Homo sapiens: one gene and its partners. The protein of the gene in region 4 interacts with the protein of the main gene of each other region in a biochemical or structural test. Each region holds a gene or a part of one and is shown on either strand. Other genes may lie near its edges.

The links.
Region 1: the proteins of MYH6 (region 4) and ESR1 form a complex in vitro, tested with the Homo sapiens proteins (one study listed by BioGRID).
Region 2: of the proteins of MYH6 (region 4) and TRIM63, one has a biochemical effect on the other in vitro, tested with the Homo sapiens proteins (one study listed by BioGRID).
Region 3: the proteins of MYH6 (region 4) and CALCOCO1 form a complex in vitro, tested with the Homo sapiens proteins (one study listed by BioGRID).

Annotation. Positions count from the first base shown.
Region 1 is NC_000006.12:151,943,669-151,947,234, reverse strand, and holds part of ESR1 (estrogen receptor), read right to left. Parts: intron 3,063-3,566; coding exon 2,727-3,062; intron 1-2,726.
Region 2 is NC_000001.11:26,061,076-26,064,641, forward strand, and holds part of TRIM63 (E3 ubiquitin-protein ligase TRIM63), read right to left. Parts: intron 260-3,566; coding exon 91-259; intron 1-90. UniProt on the Homo sapiens protein: E3 ubiquitin ligase. Mediates the ubiquitination and subsequent proteasomal degradation of CKM, GMEB1 and HIBADH.
Region 3 is NC_000012.12:53,717,427-53,720,992, forward strand, and holds part of CALCOCO1 (calcium-binding and coiled-coil domain-containing protein 1), read right to left. Parts: intron 2,404-3,566; coding exon 2,313-2,403; intron 1-2,312. UniProt on the Homo sapiens protein: Functions as a coactivator for aryl hydrocarbon and nuclear receptors (NR). Recruited to promoters through its contact with the N-terminal basic helix-loop-helix-Per-Arnt-Sim (PAS) domain of transcription factors or coactivators, such as NCOA2.
Region 4 is NC_000014.9:23,405,452-23,409,710, forward strand, and holds the start of MYH6 (myosin-6), read right to left. Parts: upstream 2,823-4,259; 5' UTR 2,802-2,822; intron 2,158-2,801; 5' UTR 2,125-2,157; intron 1,786-2,124; 5' UTR 1,773-1,785; coding exon 1,572-1,772; intron 320-1,571; coding exon 176-319; intron 1-175. UniProt on the Homo sapiens protein: Muscle contraction.

The DNA of each region.
Region 1 (3,566 bases), on a different chromosome or scaffold from region 4:
CAATTCTCCCACCTCAACATCCCAAGTACCTGGGACTATGGATGTGTGCCACCAAGCCTGGCTAATTTTTGTACTGTTTTGTAGAGACAGGGTTTTGTCATGTTGGCCAGGCTGGTCTTGAACTCCTGACCTCAGGTGATCCACCCGCCTCGGCCTCCCAAAGTGCTGGGATTACAGGCATGAGCCACTGTGCCCGGCTTATTTCCTCTTTTAAAACTTACTATTATTATTGTCATTCTCAAACTATTATCTCATAAACGTTATATTGTCTATATCAGATATTCAGTGTGGGCTATGTTTTTTAAATAACAGATGGTATTTGAATATATAAAAGATATAAATCCTTTTCAAAATGTTGCTTTGTCTATTTTTCTGAAAAGTTTGACAACCATCTGTAGAGCTTTTGCAGAAGACTTTTTTCTTCCCTCACTTTTAGTCTCTTTAAAATCAATGACTATTTTTATTCTGCTTGGTCAGGCAAGTAGGCCTTTGATTTACAACAGCTGTATTCCCATGGAACACACACAAACACACATACATATAATTTCATTTTTGCCTTTATAATTCTTTTTTTTAATTATCAAGTAAGAAGACATAGTTTATTGGTCTAAGGATTTTGGAATCATTCAGGTCTTTTAAACGAACATGATGAAGTTACAGAGTGGTTTTGTTACACATCTCATTGCCATAATTTTGTCTAGCTCTGGCTTTAATAATTGTATTTTAACTATTGCTAGCCTGTGTATAATATTTTCCTTTCCTTGACTTCTCCATTTTATTCCTAAATTCAGAAGATTATTGATGTGAATTCTTCAACCACTGGTAATGTATTTGAGCTTAATTCCAGTTGTTTAAAATGCTCTTCAACATTATTATAAAAATGTCATGATGGGAATCTACTGATACACATGAAAATGTCTGTACTTGAGTTCAGCAGTGCTCCAGAGCTAATATTCCCAAGATTTCATAAGGGAAAATATATGTTTACAGGAAAATAAAACTGAACAGCAACCAAGAGTTGGCTCTCAAATATATGACCATTAGTTTCTTTGCTTGTTTGTTTGTTTCTCTTTCCCTATAATATAAGAACAAGGCAATAACAAATATAAAGAAAAAACTTACAGCCATATTACAATTAGATTCCAACAATTAACTTATAATGTATCTGCTTCATATGAAAATGCTAAAATATGTAGGTACTCAAGAAAACTTTTCATTCTGAAGATGACCAGAAATTTTTGTTTGCCAGTTCGACTGACACTGAAAACCTACATTTGCCTATTATTCTCCATGCTTCCATGTAAACTAATAACCACTCAACCACCAAAATGGTGGCCTCTAACAAGGCTGGGTTCTGGTACTGCTGGCTCCTTATTCTACGGCCCACATGTTTATATACTGATAGATGCAAATACATGTAAGATTCTCTAAGGCCAGACATAAGTTCACTTGGCCTATAACAGAGCAGTGACCCTTGAAATGCAAGTACAAACTCCACATTTTTTTAGTTTCATATAAAACATTTCATGCTTCATAGGAAACAATTAATTTCATCTATTAAAAGAAACCAAATGAGAAAACCTCCAACTAAATCTATCACTCATTTAACCTATAAGCCCAGAAAAAAAATTTAGCTTCTTCTTGCCTCGGTTTATCTACATTAGCTCCTGAACGAATACACTGGGGCAGGGAGAAAGTCATTTTCTAGTCTTGTTGCCATACAAACTTGAGTTCTTCTCCCTGAATAACAGGAGTAACAGTCCAATTTTACCAGAACACCAGTTCTGAGAGAATCAACTGAAGGAACAAGGTATCACTTCAGCCACTGTGTCTTTCTAAAAGTTTCTTTCAGGGATGATACCTTAATTTATTTTTCCATTGCCTTTCTCTTTCTCCTAAAACACTAAGCATACACCAGGTTGGATAAATAATTGGCATTCAGTAAATACACTTATTATTATCTTTTTAATCCATAAAGATCTTTCTCTTTTTTTGTGTGGTTTATTTTTTATGACACGGTCTTGCTCTGTCACCTGGGCTGGAGTGCAGTGGCACTCCACACAAACATGGTTCACTGTAGCTTTGACCTCCTGGACTCAAGCCATCCTCTCACCTCGGCCTCCCCCATAACTGGGACCACAGGTGTGTGCCACTGCATCCAGCTAATTTTTAAAAATTTGTTGTAGAGACAGGGTTTCGCCACGTTGCCCCGGATGGCCTCAAGCTCCTGGGCTCAAGCAATCCTCCCACCTCAGCCCCAAAAAGTGCTAGGATTACAGGCACGAGCCACCACACCGAATCTTAAAAATCTTTTTAAGATAAAATCGTTTGATTAATAATTGAGATGTTTTCAACAAAGGTCATTAATATTACAAACTTTTGTAGTTCATTTAGTGTTAAAAGTTTCTGCTACTGTGAACATACACTATTAAATAGTTTTACCATGTAGTGTCCACCCTAAATCTTTTTGGTAAATGAGATGGGTTAAAAATAAATTATGTCAATTTAAGAATTTCAGTCTTCTAGATTCTGATTTAAAAATATTATTTCCTAATCTCCTGGAAAATTACAGTGTATTGATACTGAAAATGAACACATCTCCTGTAACCTTGAAACCAATTACATAACATGTTATTGCTTCTTTTTCCCCCACTATTTCTCCCATGACATCACAACAAGTTCTTGAAAAGCTATTGACTCTTAAAAGCTGCGCTTCGCATTCTTACCTGGCACCCTCTTCGCCCAGTTGATCATGTGAACCAGCTCCCTGTCTGCCAGGTTGGTCAGTAAGCCCATCATCGAAGCTTCACTGAAGGGTCTGGTAGGATCATACTCGGAATAGAGTATCGGGGGCTCAGCATCCAACAAGGCACTGACCATCTGGTCGGCCGTCAGGGACAAGGCCAGGCTGTTCTTCTTAGAGCGTTTGATCATGAGCGGGCTTGGCCAAAGGTTGGCAGCTCTCATGTCTCCAGCAGACCCCACTTCACCCCTGCCCTCCCCATCATCTCTCTGGCGCTTGTGTTTCAACATTCTCCCTCCTCTTCGGTCTTTTCGTATCCCTGAAAACACAGGTGGAAAAAAAAATTAGTTTATTTTTTTCCCGTGTAAACTTTTATACAAAAAATTTTCAAAGCTAACCAGCTTTCATTTTATTTGAAGAAATACTTTCAAGCACAGGTGAGCTGGTAAGTGTTCAACAAGTGGCTCTCCAAGAGAAGAAGAAAAAGATTTCTATTTGTAGCAGTTTTCATGGTGTAAATACTACCACCATAACATGCCAATTTTCATGGTGTAAATACCACCACCATAACAAACTTCAGGCCACTTGTCTGACATCAAATGGCTTACAAAACTCCTGAAAATTGAACAGTAGGCTTTGGTGAGCCCATACAAACTGATTCCGACACACTAGGTAGGGGTGTGTGTGTAACAGGTGTTATAAAAAGAACAGAATTCTAATTTTAGTTATTCTTAAAATAGAATTTAGCATCCAAGACTACTTCTGCTAGGAATATTCTTTTAATAGTAAATTAAAAGGGCATTTTTAAAAGCATTTAGTCCAA
Region 2 (3,566 bases), on a different chromosome or scaffold from region 4:
GCAGATCTACAGGGATCAAATCTGCCTCCTGAATCATCAGGCCGTGCCCAGCAGGCCCAGGCTGGGGGTAAAAGTGGCTGGAGACAGTACCTTTTGTCCCTGGAAGACACTCTGCAATGGGGCCACCTCGCAGGCCTTGTGGATCCCAAACACCTTGCACATGGAGCAGGTGGGCACCTCACACGTGAGACAGTAGATGTTGATTTTCTCATCTTCGTGCTCCTTGCACATGGGGTGACTGCCCTTCTGCAGCGGCCGACTGCAGTGGAGAACAGTCACAAGTCATGGGGGTCCTGTGTCCCTGCATCCCCCTCCCCAGCTCCAATGCACCAGTCGCAGCTACTGGGGAGGCTGAGGCAGGAGGATTGCTCAGCCCAGGAATTCGAGGCTGCAGTGTGTCTGTGAATCTCCAGATTTATGCCCTGGGCCCTCAGTGTTTGGCTGCCCTAAAATCTTTCATCTTCTGGGGACCAAGGACTTGGGAAGCCAATGACACCAAATCTGTCCCCACATCCTAAGAGGGAGTTAGCCTGAGGCTCTGCCAGTGCCAAGGACACAGAAAGGGCCATAGAATTCCAGAGTCAGACCTGGAGATGTTTTAGAGAAGAGGAAACTGGGCTCCAGAAAAGTGAATTGACTCGTCCAAGGTCATACAGCAAGTAAGGGCAGAGGAGCCTAGAGTTCAGTTGCTCTAATTATAGTCACCTTAGCTTTGGTTACTGCAGGCTGGGCTCTGAGCTGAGAAATTTATACTGATGGCCTCATTTAATTCTATATTTAATCTACCAGACTGTAACCTCCATCAAGGTAGGGAAACTTGCCTGTTTTCTTCACCCCTGTGCCTACACTGTACAGTGCCTGGCATAGAGGAGGTGGTAATTAAACAAAGGTAGAAAGAATAAATCAATAAGGCTGGGCGCAGTGGCTCACGCCTGTAATCCCAGCACTTTGGGAGGCCGAGGTGGGAGAGTCACCTGAGGTCAGGAGTTCAAGACCAGCTTGACCAATATGATGAAACCCCGTCTCTACTAAAAACTCAAAAAAATTAACCAGGCATGGTGGCATGCACCTGTAATCCCAGCTACTCGGGAGGCTGAGGCAGGAGAATCACTTGAAACCAGGAGGCAGAGGTTGCGGTGAGCCGAGATCGCACCATTGCACTCCAGCCTGGGCAACAAGAGCAAAACTCCGTCTCAAAAAAAAAAAAAAAGAAAGAAAGAAAGAAAGAATAAATTAATAACTAGCATAGGAATCAATAATATTCACCATCTTGAATTTATTAACATTCTCCATAAGAAAACAATTTTTTTAAAAAAGAATATTCACCACAGAGTCAGTCATACCCTCTCTCTTTCTCTTAGCTTCACCACTTTCTAGCTGTATGGCCTTGGATAAACCTCTGACCCTCTCTGAGCCATGAGGTTGCCCCTGAGGCTCAGAGAAGGAGCAGTGTGTATGCCCCATGTCATGGTGACTGGTGAGTGGGTAGCCCAGGGCTGTCCAACAGCCCAGCACAAGCCTGACTTCTAGTCCAGAGATTCTTTCAAAGGCCCAAGTCTCTTCCTCTACTTTCTCCCCTAACACATATGCTTAGAACTACCTTTCTTCCTTGAGACCTCCAACCTGTTATTTGTGCTTCTCTTGGGACATCAGTCATTTCCTAACCTAGATTCATTGGGGCCTGGGGGGGATTTTTTTGTTGTTGTGTTGTTCTGTTTTGATTTTTTGCCCAGGCTGGAGTGCAGTGGTGTGATCTTAGCTCACTGCAAACTCCACCTCCTGAGTTTCTGATGCCTCAGCCTCCTGAGTAGCTGAGATTACAGACGTGCACCACCATGCCCAGCTAATTTTTGTATTTTTTAGTAGAGATGGGGTTTCACCATGTTGGGCAGGCTGGTCTCAAACTCCTGGCCTCATGTGATCCACCCACCTCAGCCTCCCAAAGTGCTGGGATTACAGGCGTGATCCACAGCACCCAGCCTTTGTTTGTTTGTTTGTTTGTTTGTTTGTTTTGAGACAGGGTCTCACCATATTGTCCAGGCTGGAGTGCAGCAGCGATTCACAGATACACTGCAGCCTCGAACTCCTGGGCTGAGCAATCCTCCTACCTCAGTCTCCCCAGTAGCTGCAACTGGTGCATACCACCATGCCTGGTGTAGATTCGATTTTTTGAGTCTTCTGTCTCCGGCTAGACTATACACTCATTGAAAGCCAACACTACCTTCGATTCCCAGCCCCAAACAGAACAGGCATCTTGCAAATGTCAAATGGTGACTGTTCCCATCAGTGTCAATGCCTCACCTCCAAACAGCCTTACATGACTGATCACACCCTGGGCTCTATTGTCCTCTGAAGTTCTTAAATATGCCCCTTTCCAGGCTTGTCTTTTTGCATAGTTTACCCCAGGGTCCCTATGCTGGCAGGGGTCTGCCATTGCCACCTGCCTCCATCCCCTGATAAAGGGATGGCAGGGAGTGCAGAGGTGAGGCAAGAGCCTGAGGGTCTGGTTCATGCGCCCGCAGCCCTCCCAGATGCCCACCCTCCCAAGCTCAGACTTTGGCATCGGGGTTCATATCCAGATTGTTCTCTTACATTCATTTTTGTGATTTTGGACTAGTGATTTCACCTCTCTTGCCTGTGGGATTCCTCCCAGAACTACTGCAATCTGTCTGTAGAAATTGTCTATAATGAATGTAGAGTGCCCGGCACAGAGCAGACCCTCAATAGAGGGCAGCTGTCATTGTCATTCAACTATGCGGAAAGGCCTCAAAGGTTCACATATAACATGCTCTTCATAGGTCGGCACTGGGTAGGCTAACATTGGTGTGGAATTGATTTTATTATTCCTTATGATCAACAATATGTTTGCATTTTGTAGTGTTGTGCTCTAGCAACATGAGAGGCAATCTAGCTCAGCAATTAAGAATATTCACCGGCCGGCCAGGCGCGGTGGCCCACGCCTGTAATGCCAGAACTTTGGGAGGCCAAGGCGGGCGCATTACCTGAGGTCAGAAGTTCAAGACCAGCCCGGCCAACGTGGTGAAACCCTGTCTCTACAAAAAATACAAAAATTAGCTGGGTGTGGTGGTGCACGTCTGTAATCCCAGCACTTTGGGAGGCTGAGGCGGGCAGATCACCTGAGGTCAGGAGTTTGAGACCAGCCTGGCCAACATGGTGAAACCCTGTCTCTACTAAAAATATAATAATTAGCTGGGCACGTTGGCACGCATCTGTAGTCCCTGCTACTCGGGAAGCTGAGGCTGGGGAATCACTTGAACCGAGGAGGTGGAGGTTGCAGTGAGCCAAGATCGTACCACTGCCCTCTAGCCTGGGCAACAGACCAAGACTCTGCCTCAAAAAAAAAAATTAAAAAAATAAAAAATATTCTCACACCCTCTCTCTCTTAGCTCTACCACTTGCTAGCTGTGTGGGCTTGGACAAATCTCTGATCCTCTCTGAGCTTCCATTTCCTCATGGTAAAATGGAGACAGGAATGCCTTCCCGGGTTACTATGAGAAGCAGATAGGAAAAATGCCTGAAAGTACTTAGAACAGCGCCTGCACACA
Region 3 (3,566 bases), on a different chromosome or scaffold from region 4:
ATAAAAATGAAGCTCAAGATCCACCACAGTCTAACCTAGGCCTTATCTCAAACACTTCACCCGCACATTCAACTGCCCTGAGTGTTCTGGCCTTTAAGCCTTTGCTCACGTCTTTCTCTGTTCCTAGAATAGCCTCACACTCATCTCTGTCTACTCATATTCTACCTATTCTCACTGCTGAGCAAAGGGTTTTTTAACAATCTTCCACATAAACCCAGGGTACTGAAGAAGGGATTTAGGAGTTCTGCAGATACTTGATTTGAATGTCTTCTAAATTATTAACAATTATGTTAAAAAAAGAAAAACAACACAAGGCCAGGTGCAGTGGCTCATGCCTGCAATCTCGGCATGATTTGGGAGGCCGAGGTGGGCGGATCACCTGAGGTCAGAAGTTCCAGACCAGCCTGGCCAACATGGTGAAACCCCATCTCTACTAAAAATACAAAAAATTAGCTGGGCGTGGTGGCGGGTGCCTGTAATCCCAGCTACTCAGGAGGCTGAGACAGAAGAATCTCTTGAACCCGGAAGGCAGAAGTTGCAGTGAGCCGAGATCGCGCCACTGCACTCCAGCCTGGGCAACAAGATGAAACTCCGTCTCAAAACAAACAAACAAAACAAATAAAACCCATAAAATCACAAGTTAACACACTGGAGATCACCAATTGACATATGTTTCCAGGTTAATTCATTTTTTTGCAAAGCTCAGAATAGTTTCTACTGTATTTTCTATTGAATTGAAGAGTAAACTGAGTTGCAAGGTGGACAGTTTAAAAATTGTTATTTGCACCTACTTGTGTGTGACTCAAGGTGTTCTTGATATTGTACAACCAAAATAAAATACGGAAATACATTAGTTGCTGAGGCTGGCAGAACAGTCTTCGATAGCCTCTCATTTCAAAGTTTGGTATGCCTCAAAATTACCTAAGTGCTTTCATTACCTTTTAAGTAAAGGTTATACATTCAAATTTATAAAAATAAATTTATAGTAATAAAACATTGTTTTTGTTTATTCAGTGAGATTCCACACAAGATTAAAAACTTTATTGGTGGGAGGAGAGGAAAGGGTTCTGCTAAAAAGGTTTGAAAGTACTAGGCCCCACACCCCACCCCTTTTTTTTCTGAGACAGAATCTTGCTCTGTCACCCAGGCTGAAGTTCAGGGGTGCGATCACAGCACACTGCAGCCTTGACCTCCTGGGCTCAAGCAATCCTTCCACCTCAGCTTCCTGAGTAGCTGGGACTACAGGTGCATGCCACCATGCCTGGCTAATTTTTAAAATTTTTTGTAGAGATGGGGTCTCACTACGTTGCCCAGGCTGGTTTTGAACCCCTGGGCTTGAACAATCCTCTCGCCTTGGCCTCCCAAAGTGTTATGATCACAGGTGTGAGCTACCACGCCCAGCCATGGCCCTCCCTTTTTTTTTTTTTTTTTTTTTTTTTGGCACAGAGTCTCACTCTGTTGCCCAGGCTGGAGAGCCGTAGTGTGATCTAGGCTCACTGCAATTTCTGCCTCCCGGGTTCAAGTGATTCTCCTGCCTCAGCCTCCTGAGTAGCTGGGATTACAGGCACCTGACACCACACCTGGCTAATTTTTGTATTTTTAGTAGAGATGGGGTTTCACCATGTTGGCCAGGCTGGTCTTGAACTGACCTCAGGGGATCCGCCTGCCTCTGCCTCCCAAAGTGCTGGGATTACAGGCATGAGCCACTGTGCCTGGCCTCCACACCCATTTTAAAAAGACTTTTCTAATGTCTCTAACAAGATGTGTACTCATACACCTCCCTGGAGCTCCACAATACTTTATTAGATTTCTCTTGAGGCCAGGCGCAGTGGCTCACACCTGTAATCCCAGCAATTTGGGAAGCTGAGGTGGGTGGATCACTTGAGGTCAAGAGTTCGAGACCAGCCTGCCCAACATGGTGAAACCCTGTCTCTACTAAAAATACAAAAGTTAGCTGGGCATGGTGGCACATGGCTGTAATCCCCGCTGCTCAGGTAACTGAGACGTGAGAGTTGCTTGAACCCAGGAGGCAGAGGTTGCACTGAGCTAAGATCGTACCACTGCACTTCAGCACAGGAGACAAAGTAAGACTCTGTCTCCAAAAAACAAACAAAAAAAATTTCTCTTGTGACACTCTTATATTCCACTTTTCCACTCTGACTAATCCTGATTTAGGTATATGTCTTATGTTCCCTAGTAGAGTGCACACAATGTCTTCTTTACATTTTTATTCCCTTTGGTGTCTGGCTCTCGAGAGGGAATCAAACACTGGCTGGACAATGGAGAAAGCAAATCAACTCTGAGCCCCTTACCTCACTTTGCTCCTTGTCTGCTTGTACTTCTTTCAGTTGCCCAAGGAGCTTCTCTTGTTCCCGAGTCAGGGCCTTCACTGTGTCTCTAAGCCTGTGATTGGTGGGATGACATGTCAGACAATCTGCTCCACCCAGAGAAGGAATGGACTCAGGCCTCTGTCTTGTGCTCTGCTGCTGCTGCTCTAGGCCCAGAGCTCCATTTCACTCTGGGATGCATAAATCCCCAAGCCAGCTGATCCAGTTCTAAGCCCCAGGAAACCAAGATTCCAGGTTCTAGAGAACAATTTAGACAGAAATAGTTTTTCTTATCTTTTTGTGTAATATTTTAAGGAATGTTTTGCTGATGGCTCCCATTGTTTTCACTCAATCAAGAGACTAGAATCTAGTCTTTTTGAGACAAGGGCAGTCATTATTGATTATAAACTTTTGATCTAGACCAGAAGTTGGCAGACTCTTTCTGTAAAGGGCCTGATAGTAAAGATTTTATGCTTTGCAGTCCATGTGGTCTCTGTGGCAACTACTCAACTCTGCCATTGTAGTGCAGGACCATCCATTGACAGTATGTAAACGAATGAGCATGATGTTTCAATAAAACTTGAACACAGATTTGAAGTTCATACAACTTTCACATGTCACAAAATATTCTTCTTTTAATTTGTTCTTAACCATTAAAAGATGTAAAAACTATTCTTACCTGTGGGATATACAACAGGTGGCAGGCTAGATTTGGCTTGTGGGCCATAGTTGTTGACCTCTGGTCTAGATAGCCCCTAATCTTTTCCAGATGCTCAATCTGACCACTGCTTTTCTAACCTATGACTTAGAATGTAGACATCTAATATCTCCCTAGGGTGAGACTAACATATCCTGAAGAAGCCTCTCAGACGAACTCACTTATTACTTTGGGCCTTGGATAGAATGCCTCTTTCTTTTAAACAGTTTTTTAAAATATCACACCTACCAGTAGTAAATGAAACATAATTTTGTCATTTAATGAAATAAGGAACTAGAGTGTTTAAACTGGTGAAAATTTGAAGGATGGACATGGGAGGTGGTGGTTAATATTTATGCTACTTGGTAGAGAAAACAATTTTCTGGAAGAAGAAAGAAATTTATTCTGTGTGGCTCCAGAGGTCTCAGGACCCCCTGGTAAGTTATAGGAGAGGAGAGTTTGGCTCAATACAAGAGATACAAAAATGACAGCTGTCAAATGTTAAAGAGGCTGCCTCCTGAGGGTGACCTCTTACATACCCT
Region 4 (4,259 bases):
ATGTCCCTGTTCACTCCAGCTGGCTCTACTCCTCCTGCAGCTGACTAGGGGTGGAGGGGGGAAGGGGACTTGGGTCCCTTGGGAGTCTCTCCCCCTCTTCTTGGGAGAGCCCCCCTGGCTTATTTAGGCCTCCACGCAGCACAGGAAGCCTCTGCAGTGTGCAGGAGCCACTCACATATATCATCCAGGCCGCGTAGCGCTCCTTGAGGTTGAAAAGCACCGCGGGCTCGTGCAGGAAGGTCAGCATGGCCATGTCCTCAATCTTGTCGAACTTGGGTGGGTTCTGCTGCAACACCTGGTCCTCCTTCACAGTCACCGTCTGGAGGGGGCGCATAAGCAGGAGGATGAGTGACCACAATCCCTCCGGGACCCTTGCCAGCACTGCCCACTGACCTCCTCCCAGGACACAGGGACTTGGCCTTGCTCCCCTTGCTCTGACCAGTGCCCCGGCCCCTACCCCGATGTCCCCTGGGACACTTTCCCCAGGTAATTTCCCTTCCCATTGTATCTCCCATCCTAGAGACTGTCCTAGGGTACCTTTCTCTTGCCAGATCCCCAGACCATCCTGGGGACACCCTGTGCCCATGACCATCACTCTTCAGTCCCTATGTTCCAAGGGTCTTGGGGCAGACCTGGAGATTGGCAGCTCTCAGATCTGTGCACACCTTATGCTGACCCCGAGGCTGTCTCCCGCGGGCAGCGCTTTAGGGTATCTGTTGCTCAGGGCAAACCTTCACCCCTGCTGGAAAAGTAGTTCACCCATCTACTCCACACTCCCCATCCATCACTGTTGGTGTGGTTTGATTGGCAGCAGTCAGTTTGCCATGCCCTGATGTCATTAGATCCTGCCAGTAGGTATTCCAGTGTTTTTTATAGTGGAGAAATCCGTGGCTCTAAATGACTAAATGATTTGCCTGCACAGTGACTAGCGGGTGGCAGAGCTGGGATCAGAGTCAAAAGCCCCAGGGGATTGTGGCCTGTTATTCTACACTTCAATGGGTTGTAACATTCAGTCAACGAGTTCATGAGGCACACAGCCCTGAGCCGCAGCTGGTAACCAGGGGTGATTCTCTTGGCTGGTGTGAGCAAACCAGGGACCAGAGCTTCTGAGTGCCAGTCAAGGAGAGTGCTCAGCTCAAAAGTTTCTGATCTTTGTGTTCATCTGGGTCTAAGAATTACTCTTGATTTGGGTGAACGGAATTTGAGAAAGTGGACTCATGGAGGAAACTGAGGCACAGGGAAGAGGGATACAAGTGCAAGAAGGGGGCATCATTTAATGCTGTGTCTGTGCCCTCTTTATCTACAAGACCCCTCTTAGGCGAACACTGAGGTTCTTCTTCCTCAGCATCCTCTCTGGCAGGGGGAACATGGCCCTGGGTGGCACCTGTTGCACCAGCTCAGGTCAATTTGAGAGGGATCAGATTCTGGGCTCCTCAAAGGAGCATGTCCTGGCATCCCCACTGGCCTTGGCTTTTCTCCAGCCCTCTCAGCTCCCCCTGCAAGTGGCTCCACCTCTGCATCTTCTTTCCCAGACCTCCTTCCCTTCTGCCCCGGCGCCATGCCCTACTCACCTTCCCATTCTCGGTTTCAGCAATGACCTTGCCTCCCTCCCGGGACAAAATCTTGGCTTTGACAAACTCTTCCTTGTCATCGGGCACGAAGCACTCAGTGCGAATGTCAAAGGGCCGGGTCTGGGCCTCTAGACGCTCCTTCTCTGACTTGCGGAGGTACTGGGCCGCTGCCCCAAAGTCAGCCATCTGGGCATCGGTCATCTTGGTGCTTCCCCTGGGTCAGAGACAGGAGGGCTATGTTACTCCTGAGGGAGCCCAGGCTCCAGCGAGTGGCTTTGTCCTCTGCAGCCCCCCTCCCTACCCCCGCTCCTCTCCTCCACCCTGGGAGAGGCACCTGCTGTTGCACCCTCCCCTACTCAGGGCTCTGCTTCTCCTGCCCTCTGAGGTGATGCTGAAGGACAATCTCTGTAAGGGGTTTCCCTGGGGTGGCATTGGCTGGAGTATGCTAAGGGTTGGCGCTGAGTGCTTGGGACAGCAGACCCCTGGTCCAGCAATCCGGCTCCCAGGAGAAGCATGCCCCAGTCTCTGCAGAGAAAATGGGGGCAGTTCTCACCTGGTTATCCCTTCACGGAGAATCCTGAAGAATCTGGACCGTGGGTGGAGCAAGGAACAACAGAGGTAGAGCCGGGCAGAGAGAAGAACAGATGAGGAGAGTGAAGAACAACAGAGGCAGGCCACCCGGGGATGGAGGCAGCCCCAGAGCGCAGACAGGCAGGACAGACCAGGGAGTCAGAAAGGGAAAGACGCAGAGGCAGAAAAGAAAGGGCACCGAGTCAATATGAGTGCGAGGGACGGGGTGTGGAAACAGGGTTAGAAGCAGAGAGGCAGGGAGGTGAGAACACGTGCCAAGAAGGAAGGACAAGGGAGAGAGACAAAGAAGCATGATTGTGACAAGTGTCGATGAAGACCAAGAGGCAAGATAAAACCAGGATCAAGGGAAGGAAGCCATCCAAAGGAGGAAGGAAGATGGAAAGATGGAGACAACATGTAGGAGACTCAGAATGATGCAGAGAAAGAAATGGAGAGTCAGAGAAGGAGAAAAGAGGTTTCTGGGTTTCCTGTGGAACCTCCTTGTGTCAGGGGGAACTTCCCTGGGCCTGGAGATAGGCAGTTTTAATAGAGCCCTTAGGCCTCCAACTGACCTGCACCCCACTCCTGGTGAAGGAGGTCCCTCACGGTGGGGGCTCTGTGGACGGGCTGCAGGGCATCCCACCCCAAACCTCCTCTTACCTGGGCCGCAGGAGTCTCTCTATCTGTCCTCAAAGCTCCAGTTCCTTTATATCCCGTTTCCCCCACCCTCTGTCTAAATTTGGAGTCCTTCCGGAGGGACCCTCCCTCCCACCTCTCTCCCCTCCTGGCTCCTCCTCCTTTGATCCTTTGGCTCTGGAGGTGACAGGAGGACAGCAGGGCCCCCTGATTTGCCCAAGAAAGGTCTGCTGCCCCAGCCTCTCTGGCTCCACGGCCTTTTTTTAGTCCTTGGGCACATTCCTCCCCTTCAAAGGGCTGATGAGCAGATAGTGGGAAGACAGGACCTTCTCACACCGCCTCTCCCACCCTGCCATGGCCCTTACCTCAGTTATTTTTAACCCGAAGGGTGAACTGAAAACATGGGTGAGGGTCACCTTCTCCTGCAGGCCAAATGCCTGTCCTCCGCCTCCCAACCATGGGCTTTCCTCCCCTGTTCCCCAGCCTCTCCTTCCCATTCTGACCTCCCTCACACAGTCCCAGGCTGGGAGCATCTTCCTGCTGTTAGTACTGGAGCCCCCAGTGCTAGGGACTAAAAGCTGCAGTATGGTGCCCAGGGAAGGGATCTGTTGTCCATCTCCATGGCTCAGTTTTCTTTTGTCAGGAAATTCTGTCCTGGCCTCAGTCTGCATAAGTGCCATGCCTGGTCTCCTTCTGTTCCCCAAGTCTTCAGACAAGTGTTCTCCCAAGGTCTTGAGGCCACCCTGGTTTGGGGACACGTCTGGAGTCCCCACCCCTTCCCTAATGCTCCTGATAGAGTGGCCAACATCCAACCTGCTCACGCAATGGCAGTGATTCTCCCTGCCGCCTCAGGCAGATTTTCACACAGAACCCCAGTTCAGCACTCTCACATACAGACTTGACCGTGTCTGTGCCCATCTTCAGCCACACATGCAGATTTTTCACACTTACCCACTCAAGCTTGCAGATTTCTTTTCTACTTTCTTTTGTGTACATGGATGCACACATTTGCACATCCGCATTTGCACACATAGGCTTTTGCCCTCCCCTGCTACCCTCTGCTCCTGGGGTGGGGTGGGCAGAAGAAGATGGTGCTAATCCTAGGGCCTGAGAGAGGAGGGGGGTGGGTGAGGGGCTGTCCCCTTCTGCCTCACCGGGCTGCCAGAGGGTGCAGGTGCCTGGCAGGCCTGGGGATTTACACCATCTGGTCCCCAGGCACTGCATTCCATCGGGGTGGGGCTCTGCCACCTGCCCCCTCCCCAGGCAGAATTTTGTTGCCCCTTTCCAAGCCCTCCAGGGCTTATACTCACATTCCCTTCTTTGTGGGTGTCCTCAAGCACCCTAGGCCCTCAAGGCCCCGCTCCCCATCCTCCAATGCTGCCATCTCTCAGAGGCTGTAGGTGTCAGGTCTTCAGCAGGCTGTTCCTGTTATGACTAAGTGGACATTGTGTTCAGGAAACAAAGCCAGACTCCCCTGCTCTG